Regions from separate parts of the Homo sapiens genome. Here region 1 is linked to region 2. Evidence: fine-mapped expression QTL. A gene starts in region 2. The other region holds a variant in brackets. All regions are shown on one strand. Distances are from middle to middle. Region 1 overlaps FRA10AC1 (FRA10A associated CGG repeat 1). Region 2 holds the start of PDE6C (phosphodiesterase 6C).

What was found.
Region 1: its variant is fine-mapped to the expression of PDE6C in breast (GTEx, PIP 0.94).

The regions. Positions count from the first base shown.
Region 1 is chr10:93,695,722-93,701,109 of GRCh38, forward strand. It overlaps FRA10AC1 (FRA10A associated CGG repeat 1), which reads right to left. Exons shown (of 14, transcript NM_145246.5): 2 at 4,309-4,385; 3 at 2,580-2,675; 4 at 2,415-2,460. The coding sequence starts at 4,385. Among named protein-coding and RNA genes, the nearest start is that of FRA10AC1, 4.2 kb to the right of the region's middle. The variant A/G (reference allele first, on the strand shown) is at 2,514.
Region 2 is chr10:93,610,012-93,615,373 of GRCh38, forward strand. PDE6C (phosphodiesterase 6C) reads left to right here and starts at 2,526. Exons shown (of 22, transcript NM_006204.4): 1 at 2,526-3,194. The coding sequence starts at 2,715.

The DNA of each region.
Region 1 (5,388 bases), 86 kb after region 2:
TAATATTTCAGGAAAAAAAAAAAAGAGAGAGACAGAAAAACCAAATACCTGGAGATCTGGATTCTAGCTCTTGATCTACCACTAACTGGTCACATGACCATGGCAAGTCATGTAACCTATTAGAGCTGGGGTCAGCAAACATTTTCTGCAAACGGCCAGATGGTAAATATTTCAGGCTTTGCAAGCCATATGGTCTCTGTTGCAAATGCTCAGTTCTGCCATTTTAGCATGAAAGCAGCCAAAGACAACATATAAATGAAGCATGGCTGTATTCCAATATAATTTTATGTACAAGAACAGGTGGTGGGTGTAACTTTTGCTTCCGGGAAGATGGAGTAGGCAAAGATGTACTTCTCCCTATTCCTCATACTAATAACAACTAAAATCCTTATACATTATATATCAAACATAAAAAGACTCTAAAAGGTGGAAGGAAGAAGGCGCCCCGCTAGGGACCTCCTGAAGACCTATGGTATGACATGATAGCGAGTTCCCTAGGTTTTCTTTTTGTCTCATGTATCCTAGAATTGGAGGTAAAGAAGGTGACAACCCGGAAACACCAACAGGCACGGACTAAAAAATCGTCAACAAAAGCTGTTCTCTCTAACCAAATGACCAAGAGTCAGCCTAGCAAGACAACTTTGAGACAATAACTACTCTACTCTTGTCAAACAACCCAGAGAAAACTGTGGTTCCCAGTCAGAATCGCAATTATTAAAAAGTCAGGAAACAACAGATGCTAGCAAGGCTGTGGAGAAATACGAACACTTTTACACTGTTGGTGGGAATGTAAAATGGTTCAACCATTATTGAAGACAATGTGGCAATTCCTCAAGGACCTAGAACCAGAAATAACATCTGATCCAGCAATCCCATTACTGGGTATATACCAAAAGGAATATAAATCATTCTATTATAAAGATACATGCACATGTATGTTTATTGCAGCACTATTCACAATAGCAAAGACATGGAACCAATCCAAATGTCCATCAATGATAGACCAGATAAAGAAAATGTGGTACATATACACCATGGAATACTATGCAACCACAAAAAGGAATGAGATCATGTCCTTTGCAGGGACATGGATGAAGCTGGAAGCCACCATCCTCAGCAAACTAACACAGGAACAGAAAACCAAACACCACATGTTGTCACCCATAAATGGGAGCTGAACAATGAGAACACATGGACACAGGGAGGGGAACATCACACACTGGAGCCGGTGGGCGGGGAAGGGTGAGGGTGATGGGTTGATAGGTGCAGCAAACCACCATGGTACATGTATACCCTATGTAACAATCCTGCACGTTCTGCACATGTATCCCAGAATTTAAAGTAATAAAATAAAATAAAGAAAAATAAAATAAAATAAATCCTCACACACAAAACAAAAAACAAACAAACAAAAAAAACTGTGGCTCCAACTCCTCCTATGCCAGAAAAAAGAGTACCCATACTTTCACTCTCACCAGGCTATAACTAGGTGCCCCCAATGCAGTAGGTGTCAGAGAAGGCAGAGCAAATGTTTAAATGCTAAAGGAACAAATGGCAGATGAGATCCATGGAAAAGCTAGCTATTGGGTTAGGAGATAAGAAGAATAAATCAATTAGTGACACAATGGTACTTCTATAACTTAAAAGAAAAATATTGGAATAGCACAGTGAAACAGATGATTACAGGTAGGGGGCGTATCAAATTGACACTGTCTCCTTCTCCCAATTCTGATCACAGCAATAAATACCCAAAAATACTTCAGTTTTTGCTTGGTATCTCTTAAATTCTCCAATATTCTCAACAGCAGTATGGATGGCCAGCGTAGCAGTTAGTGTCATCAGCCAGTCTTATTAAAAAACTGAGTTGACAAATGGCTATAACCAGGAAGCAGGGTTTATCTTAAAGATAGCTTTAAGTCATGCCTAAAAATTAAAGCCATGGCAGGCCTGAGGACAGTCCACAGGCAGGCCTCATTTTATTTTTATTTTTTCCTTAGATCCAGGGACAGACTGGATAGACCTAATTTTAAATACAAGTTTTATAGAGACCTTAAATAGCAAAGAACCAGGTAGGAAGAGAATAAATTAAAATGAGACTAAAGATAAGTATAGGAAAAGGAAATGTTGAAAGCTTGAAAAAACAATTTGGAAAATATATTTGCAGATTCATGTACTTTATAAACCTATTTATAGAGTACTAGTAATATGTTTTATTATTTTTGTCTCTAAATCTTTCCTATATATTAGTAAAAGAGAATTGTACCCAAAAGTATAAATGGCAAAATCCTACATCACTAAATACTTATCTTTAAAAATAAAAAAGCCTATTTGACTTCACAAGATTTTATAAAACAAAAAAGCAGATTTTAAAATATTCTACTAGTTATAAAAATCTGGAAATAAAAAAAGGATACAGCATCCATAGCTATGAGATGAAACCTTCTATTTCTTGCTTCTTCCCTGTTAAAACAAATTTTTTTAAGAAAATTCAAAATGTTTATATTCAAATTAAC[A/G]TAATCAAATCCCCTAATCCGAAGCAACTTAAACCAAGAAATAGAATTGACACTGAAATACCATACCTATCCAGCAATTCTGCTGCAACTTGTTTATGGGCCACCTTTCCATGTTTTTCTTTCTGAAATGGTTTTTGGAGCAGTAAGTCATCTTCAACTGTCCTGATATATTAAGAAGAAAATAAGAGTTCACTTTTTTCAAAGGTTATTTTCTAATTCTTTATATTTTCATAACTGGAATATACTTTAAAGAATGTAAGTCTTAACTTTAAGAAGACTCACTGATCTTTAATGAGATATTTTACATTTCCTTAAATAGCTTAATTAATACCTTAACATTATTTTAATACCTATAACACGGGGAAGATGAAACTAACAAAAGCATGGACTCTAGTGTCATATCACCTAGCTTCCTGATTCAAATCCTAATTCTGTCAATTACTACCTTAATCTTAATAAGATTCAATTATTTATCTCTTTGTTTCTTCATTTCTCTATCTGTAACATAGTGATAAGGAAGTTTTTGGTAATTAATGATACACAAAAAGCAAGGCTGATTATAGAGAACACAAACCACAGATCCAGCTCGCCCAACCCATGGGCCTCATGTGGCCCAGGATGGCTTTGAATGTGGCCCAACACAAATTTGTAAACTTTCTTAAAACATTAAGACACTTTTTCACATTTTTTTAAACCTCATTGGCTATCATTAGTGTATTTTACGCAGGCCCAGCACTGCTTCAGGCCAACAATGTGAACCAACAGATTCACAATTGTGTGTGCTCCACTGTAGTACGTGGCCCAAGACAATTCTTCTTCCGATGTGGCCCAGGAAAGCCAAAAGACTGGACACCCTGCCATAGACTGTCAGCCCTAGTTATAGTGATGAATATAATCCTGGAGCAGAGTATCCAACTAGATTTGCTCAAATTCTATTCTTACAAAGTAGTATTTTTGAATGAAAAATCTAGAAAATGTAAAGCATCAAAAATGTAATTTATTATAATTAGTACTATCCTTTATTGCAGAGACTGAGTATCCTATAAAAATGTTCAGAACCTGTTAGTATGCCTAATATATTGCTCTCAGTGTGAAATAATAAGCCAATTTCTATACATTTGCTTAAAAAAATCAGTCAACAGCCGTGTAAGTTTGGTTAGTATACATCAGTCAACCACTCCTGAGTCAAAGTATAAAACTGAGTTTCTATGCACTGAAAGCTAAGAACAATGCTCCTACGCACAGCAGCTCCACCAAGACGTATCCTGCTTATAACGCACAGGCTTTATGTGCTAAGAGTTTTTGTCTCTTGCAATTCAAAAAAACCTTCCTTGAGTTTCTTCCCGTGACCTTAGTCTGCTCATTCACGTATGCGTAAGAACTGTGCTGCATTATACTTTCATCCTCCATATTAACTTCACTTTGAAGGCAAGTAATGGCAAGAGACCACCATTCAAGCCCCTTCTGAGCTACAACATTTACAAATAAACAGTCCTTGACAGTTGAATGAAAAATATATGTAATGAAAAGGTTTCACTGATTTCTGAAAAGATTCCAGAAATCTGAAACTCTTCTTTCCCTTTCAATAAACCCCTTTGCAGAATTAATTTTTATTTTTCCCACAATTGTTCTCCAATTTTTAATCAATGTATTAGCTTAATGAACAAAAATTCATTCACTAGAGCAATTGTCTTCACATGTAAACAGAATTCAAAAATTTCACTCTTGTTTATTTATACTTCATATTAATCTAGAAAGGATGTGAAAAATAGATCAATAAAAAAAAATTACTTACCTTTTTTTCCTTTTGCTGGATTCTCCACAGCGTTCATCATCACTAAAATCAGAATCATAGCCTCCATGACCATGCATCTGTAAAGGAGTACAAAGTCAGCTATTTAGAATCTATGTTGCCAATTGTCCAGGAAACAATAATTCAAAAATAAGTTATCTTAAACAGCCACAATAGTTTTAAAGGATCATTGTGGGCAGATTCCTATTCACAGGCCATCTAGCCATCTAAAACTTTCATTCGCTTTTAAATAAGAGACATACCTTTCAGGAAATGCATCAACATTTTTCACCCTTAATTATCATTAGGTGAACAAAGAAGGCTACTCTTTGATCTTTTCACTGAAAAACCAGGCCTAAAAGCTGCAGTGACTGCTTACAAGGTTTAGCAATCCTTCACTTTTGATTCAGAGTAGTAATAATCACTGTGTGTTTATCACCAACTTTGTTCTAGACATTGTGTTAAATACTTTACAAACAACACTTCTAATTCTGCAAGTTAGAAAGTTATCTTCATTTAGGAATGAAGTAATCAAAGTTAAGTAAATCTATTTACAAATCCAGTAAGTGGCTAATCTGCTGTACTTGATTCCTGCGCCCACAATTTCAATTACTCCAAATTTCCTCTCTGGAATATGATTTACTATATTCCAGGAGAATTACAGTATTTGTGAACAGTACATCATCAATTGATGAAAATTTTCCTGTAATCTTTTTCAATATATGTAGAGATTTCCATTTTCTTTTGAGTTTCTTTAAGGTAAACCACCTTGCCCTTTGGATTAGTCAGCTTTCTCTTGTTTCATTTTATTTATCCAGTTATTTTTGGAGAGTCTCGCTCTATTGCTCAGGCTGGAGTGCTGTGGCGCCTTGATGGCTCACATCCTCAACCTCCTGGGCTCAATCAATCCTCCCACCTCAGCCTCTCCAAGTAGCTGAGACTACAGGAGTGCATAATCACACCTGGCAAACTTAAAAAAATTTTTTTTTTGTAGATAAGGGGTTTCGCCATGTTGCCCACGCCGGTCTCAAACTCCTGGGCTTGAGCAATCCGTCCACCTCAGCATCCCAAAATGCTGGGACT
Region 2 (5,362 bases):
GCTTGAACCCGGGAGGCGGAGGTTGCAGTAAGCCAAGATCGCGCCTGGGCAATAGAGGGAGACTCCATCTCAAAAAAACAAAAAAGAAAGAAAGAATGAACAAATGAATGAATCTCTAACTAGTTATAAAAACAAAAGAATGCTGACTATAATAGGATGTTTCTTTTTCAAATTAATATTCACTTTTATAAGATTATGAAAGATGGGCCGGGCACGGTGGCTCATACCTGTAATCCCAGCACTTTGGGAGGCCGAGGCGGGTGGATCACGAGGTCAGGAGATCAAGATCATCCTGGCTAACACAGTGAAACCCCGTCTCTACTAAAAATACAAAAAATTAGCCGGGCATGGTGGCAGGAGCCTGTAGTCCCAGCTACTCGGGAGGCTGAGGCAGGAGAATGGCATGAACCCAGGAGGCAGAGGTTGCAGTGAGCCGAGATCGCACCACTGCACTCTAGCCTGGGCAATAGAGCAAGACTCTGTCTCAAAAAAAAAAAAAAAAAGATTATGAAAGTTGAACATATATGGGCATTTTGTTTTTTCTTTTTCTATTAAGTATAAGTCTGTATATGAAATGCAAATATGTGTTTTTCCCTCTCTGTTTCAAGAGGGAAGGATGAAACCAGGAAATCGTGAGCACACCACATACTTACAGGAGAAGTAGGAACTGTACCATGAGTCACACAAAATAACTAGGTAAAAAAGAGTGTCCAAAATTGTTAGATAAGGAAGATGGTCCCATAGGAGGGGTGACTCAGTTGACTCAACTCTCTCCTGGGAAATACACTTCTGCATTATCCTATTTATAATAACAGGGTGTTATGAAGTAAATAGTCACCCAAAGAGGAACCTCCTGAGAGTAGAGTTGAGTGTGACATAGGACAGTCCAAGAAAATATGTGCACCTGACAAGGTGCTTTGAGGTAGCAGGTGAAGCTCAATCACAAGAAGTGGCATAACTCAACAAATGACTCTTTCTGTACCCCTGGGAAAACCATGTTTCCCACCAAGAATCTCTCAATTCATGACAGGGAATGTGCAACCTCAACGGATCTCTCTTTCTTTTGTGACTATTAAGATTACTATCTCTCAGGCTGACACAGGTGGATCACCTGAGGTTGGGAGTTCAAGACTAGCCTGGCCAACATGGTGAAACCCCATCTCTACCAAAAATACAAAAATTAGCTGGGCGTGGTGGCACCCACCTGTAGTCCCAGCTACTCGGGAGGCTGAGGCAGGAGAATCACTTGAACCTAGGAGACGGAGGTTGCAGTGAGCTGAGATCGCACCACTGCACTCCAGCCTGGCAATAGAGCGAGACTCAGTCTCAAAAAAAAAAAAAAAAAAAAAGAAAAAGATTACTATCTAGAGAGGTAAATCTTAGAGAACTCAATGAAACTCATAGGGTTTCTATTTTTGAAGCAAACTTAAATGTGGGTGTAACAATAATTTTTAGAGTCACTGTAACATGTGTGTGTTTTCCACTTAAGAGAATTTGTCATATTAGGTTTGTAGCTTTATTGAAGTGTTTAAAACACCTTGACTAAGTTTGAAACCAACATTTAAGTATCGAAGGCAATTGGTTCATGAATTAATAGTTTGAATTATTAGTTGCATAATAGTGTTTAAATATTTGAGGAAATGTGTTTAATAGATGTAAAAGCTTAGTAAAGTGAACATTAAACAAAACTAAGTAGTGGTAAGTGTTCTTTCTATGCCAGTAGCCCCTGAGACGTTAAGGATCCTAGCAACAGACAAGATATCTATCATCTAGTAGATTTAGTAGACTGTATGTTGTAGCAAAATCGCATGACCTCTGGCTATTACTATTGAAAACAAAATCCTAACTAAGATACTTAGCAGAAAAACCCAGCCAGCAACTATGTAGGTTACCTTTTGTAATTACAGTCTCTCGACAAGGGTTATTATTCAATTCATGACTTGATTAGGTTTGGATCATTGGCAAATATTTTGCTATGTTCACCTCTTTAGTAATAAGCTTGAGGTTTACTCCTTTAAAACACTTCTGAGGTCAAGCTTTCTGAAGTGACAGGGATTGAGAGGTGAAGGTTCTAGAGAAAGAGGAGGCCAAGCAACCTTGGTGATCAAAAGACTTTTAAGAAAAGGAAAGATTAATATTCACCTTTATGTTGCAGTGATGCAAACTGTTCCATATCTCCCAGATGTTCATTACAGTTGCTATATAAACAAAAAAAATCCAAGCACTTCCGAGGTCTAAATAGTTTTACTTCCTATAGCTATCATACAAGAACGATTCAAAGTGCCAATTGTTGCCAATGTCGTGTCATTCATGGATATGTCAGTGATTCTTCCTTGCTGTGGACAGCAGCCGACATTCAGTTATTTTTCTGGAATAGACACCTCAGCTTGCTACTTGCTGGGCTGATCTAAGATACTCTGAAGATTCGCTAGGGACTTATGAGCTACTAATGCTCAGGGATTTAGTGTCCTGAAGAACTCTTTAATCCTGTGCTTCCTGAATCCCACCCTAAGCCAGGGCCTTCTGTCACATCCCAAGAGTTACAGGCAGTTTGAAAGCTCTGCTTTCTGCTTGACCTTTGGAAGTCCTATGAGGGACCATTTACGGTTTCCTCAGTAATTTCCACCAGGATGAATTTCCTTCTCATCACTCTGCCTCAGGTAGTGCTCTGAAGGTCGTCCTTTCTGAACAAACGCAGCAAAGCAAGCCACACCATGGGTGAGATCAACCAAGTTGCCGTGGAGAAATACCTGGAGGAGAACCCTCAGTTTGCCAAGGAGTACTTTGACAGGAAGTTGCGGGTGGAGGTGCTGGGAGAAATCTTCAAGAACAGCCAGGTGCCAGTCCAGTCCAGCATGTCCTTCTCTGAGCTGACCCAGGTGGAGGAGTCAGCCCTGTGCTTGGAGCTGCTGTGGACCGTGCAGGAGGAGGGGGGCACCCCAGAGCAGGGGGTTCACAGGGCCCTGCAGAGGCTGGCCCACCTGCTCCAGGCTGACCGCTGCAGCATGTTCCTGTGCCGGTCCCGGAACGGCATACCTGAGGTGGCCTCTAGGTTGCTGGATGTCACCCCCACCTCCAAGTTTGAGGACAACCTGGTGGGCCCTGACAAAGAAGTTGTGTTTCCATTGGACATTGGGATAGTGGGTTGGGCTGCTCACACGAAGAAAACTCATAATGTCCCAGATGTGAAAAAGGTAGGTGGCCTTATGACAGTGGGGCAGAGGTCTTGGCAGGGTCAGGGAGGAACAAATGGGAAAGAGAGATAGTGCTATCCTTGTGGCATTAGTTTGGCAATAACCGGGGGAATGTGGGTGGCAGGGAAGAGGATCACCCAGGCCTAGTGTTGCCAAATTTAGCAAATGAAATTTCAAGTTGCCCAGTTGAACTTGAATTTCAGATAAACAATGAATTATTATTTTCTGAAGTATAAGTATGTCCCATGTAAAGTTTGGCATTTTATCAGGTGATCCTACCTGGCCCTGGTGCATTCCACACACCCTCCCTTACGCCTCCTCCAGTGCTCTGGGGGACTTTCCTTCTCAGCAACACCAGCAAAACAAACTACCCCACTAGGGAGATGGGCCAACGTGCCCAGATGCCAAGACTTGTGAACTGCTCCCCATGCCTCTCATTCACAGTCCTTCGAAAACATTCAGGTTTTTTGGATGGATTTGCTAGTAAATCAATTCTTTCATCTATCGACCAAATGTGCAAAGAGAAAAAATGATGCCATTTGAAAGTTCAGATGTTCAAATTTGGAATTCATTACATATGTGAATTTAGGTGATGGTTAAGTGCAATTGACCACTCCCACTGCTCCATAACCCAGATCTTTCAAGAATGAATTCCAATCAAGTAAGTGGGACATTTGGACCCTCTTGAAGACCAACAGCATACTGCACAAATACAAGGCATTGAGATGCCCCTTATAGAAATAGAAAAACTTTATTCTTACCATTAGAGTACATGTTCATTTTTAAACAATTATAAGATACAAATAAACCAGAGGAGGAAATGCTAATCACCCATCATCCCTCCCCTCAGCAATAATCAAGGGTACCAGCTTGGAGATTCTCCTGGCAGCTCCTTCTCTACACATGTGGTCCATTATTACAGTTTACCATTAACAAAAAGGGAAAAGTGGATTATGATGGAACAGAGTTGAATGGGAACAACTTGTGAAATGCTTTCTGTGCAGGGGTGTATAGGGCAGCTGGAGAGGCAGGAGGATAATCTCCTAAATGCCTCCTGAAGCTGATTATAGGGGGAGGGTCACACGGACCCAAGAGGTGTGGAAGTCATCAAACACGAGTGACTCTCTGCAAACAACCACAGAACACCGCTCAGGTGCAAGGGTTACCATGGGGCCTGGTAGGGCTTCAGTCCTGAATAATTCCTCCTTTCAGTAAGTTTAAGCTGGGTTAAGTTTGCTTTTGAGCCTGACTGCAGCTGCTTCAAGTGTCTAAATGGATGCTCATCCTTAGGGCAAAGTTCTCTAGACAACCAACTGGAAGGCAATGTCTGCACATCCTGAGGTTTTTCTCATGGGAATACGCTCCTTGAGGGTCCCCAACTGAGCCCATCCCTGCTAGCACATCAAACTTGAAAAAGTGACATTCAGCAATTTTTTGAAAGGCTTTTAAAGAAGAGATGGGTAAAATGATTTCTGCTGTTATACTTTGATTAGCCCAGTTCTCTGTGGTGAGAAGGAAATAAGAGCATGGAGCTGCTTGGAGGTGGTTTTGGTCTGCGGCTGTCCATGGTGAGCATCACGGCATGGACGGAGCACTTCATCTGGGAGTGGGGAGTCTCTCCTCTCTTCTCTGGAGGACTCCTGGCTGTTCTGGGTGGGACACAGAGAAATGTGTGTTGAAGACAGATACGGTTCTGTGCTCACGAGAAAGAGACCTCATTGGTTCTTCATTTCAACTGCTTCTTCACATTTTTTTCTCTCTAGAGTGGGGATTCCAACTCTGGCTGTACATTAAAACCATATTAAGCTGTGTGCAGTGGCTCACGCCTGTAATCCCAGCATTTTGGGAGGCCACGGCGGGTGGATGGCTTAAGCCCAGGAGTTCGAGACCAGGCTGGCCAACATGGGAAACCCCCGTCTCTACCAAAAATACAAAAATAAGCCAGGCATGGTGGTGTGTGCCTGGAGTCCCAGCTACTTGGAAGGTTGAGATGGGAGGATGGCCTGAGTCTGGGAGGCCAAGGCTGCAGTGAGCTGTGTTCACACACTGCACTCCAGCCTGGGTGACAGAATGAAACCCTGTCTCAAAAAATAAACACAATCCACAAAACCATATTGGTGGCTTTATTGTTACAGCGGACTCTCAAAGATTAGAATTCAGGCATTAGT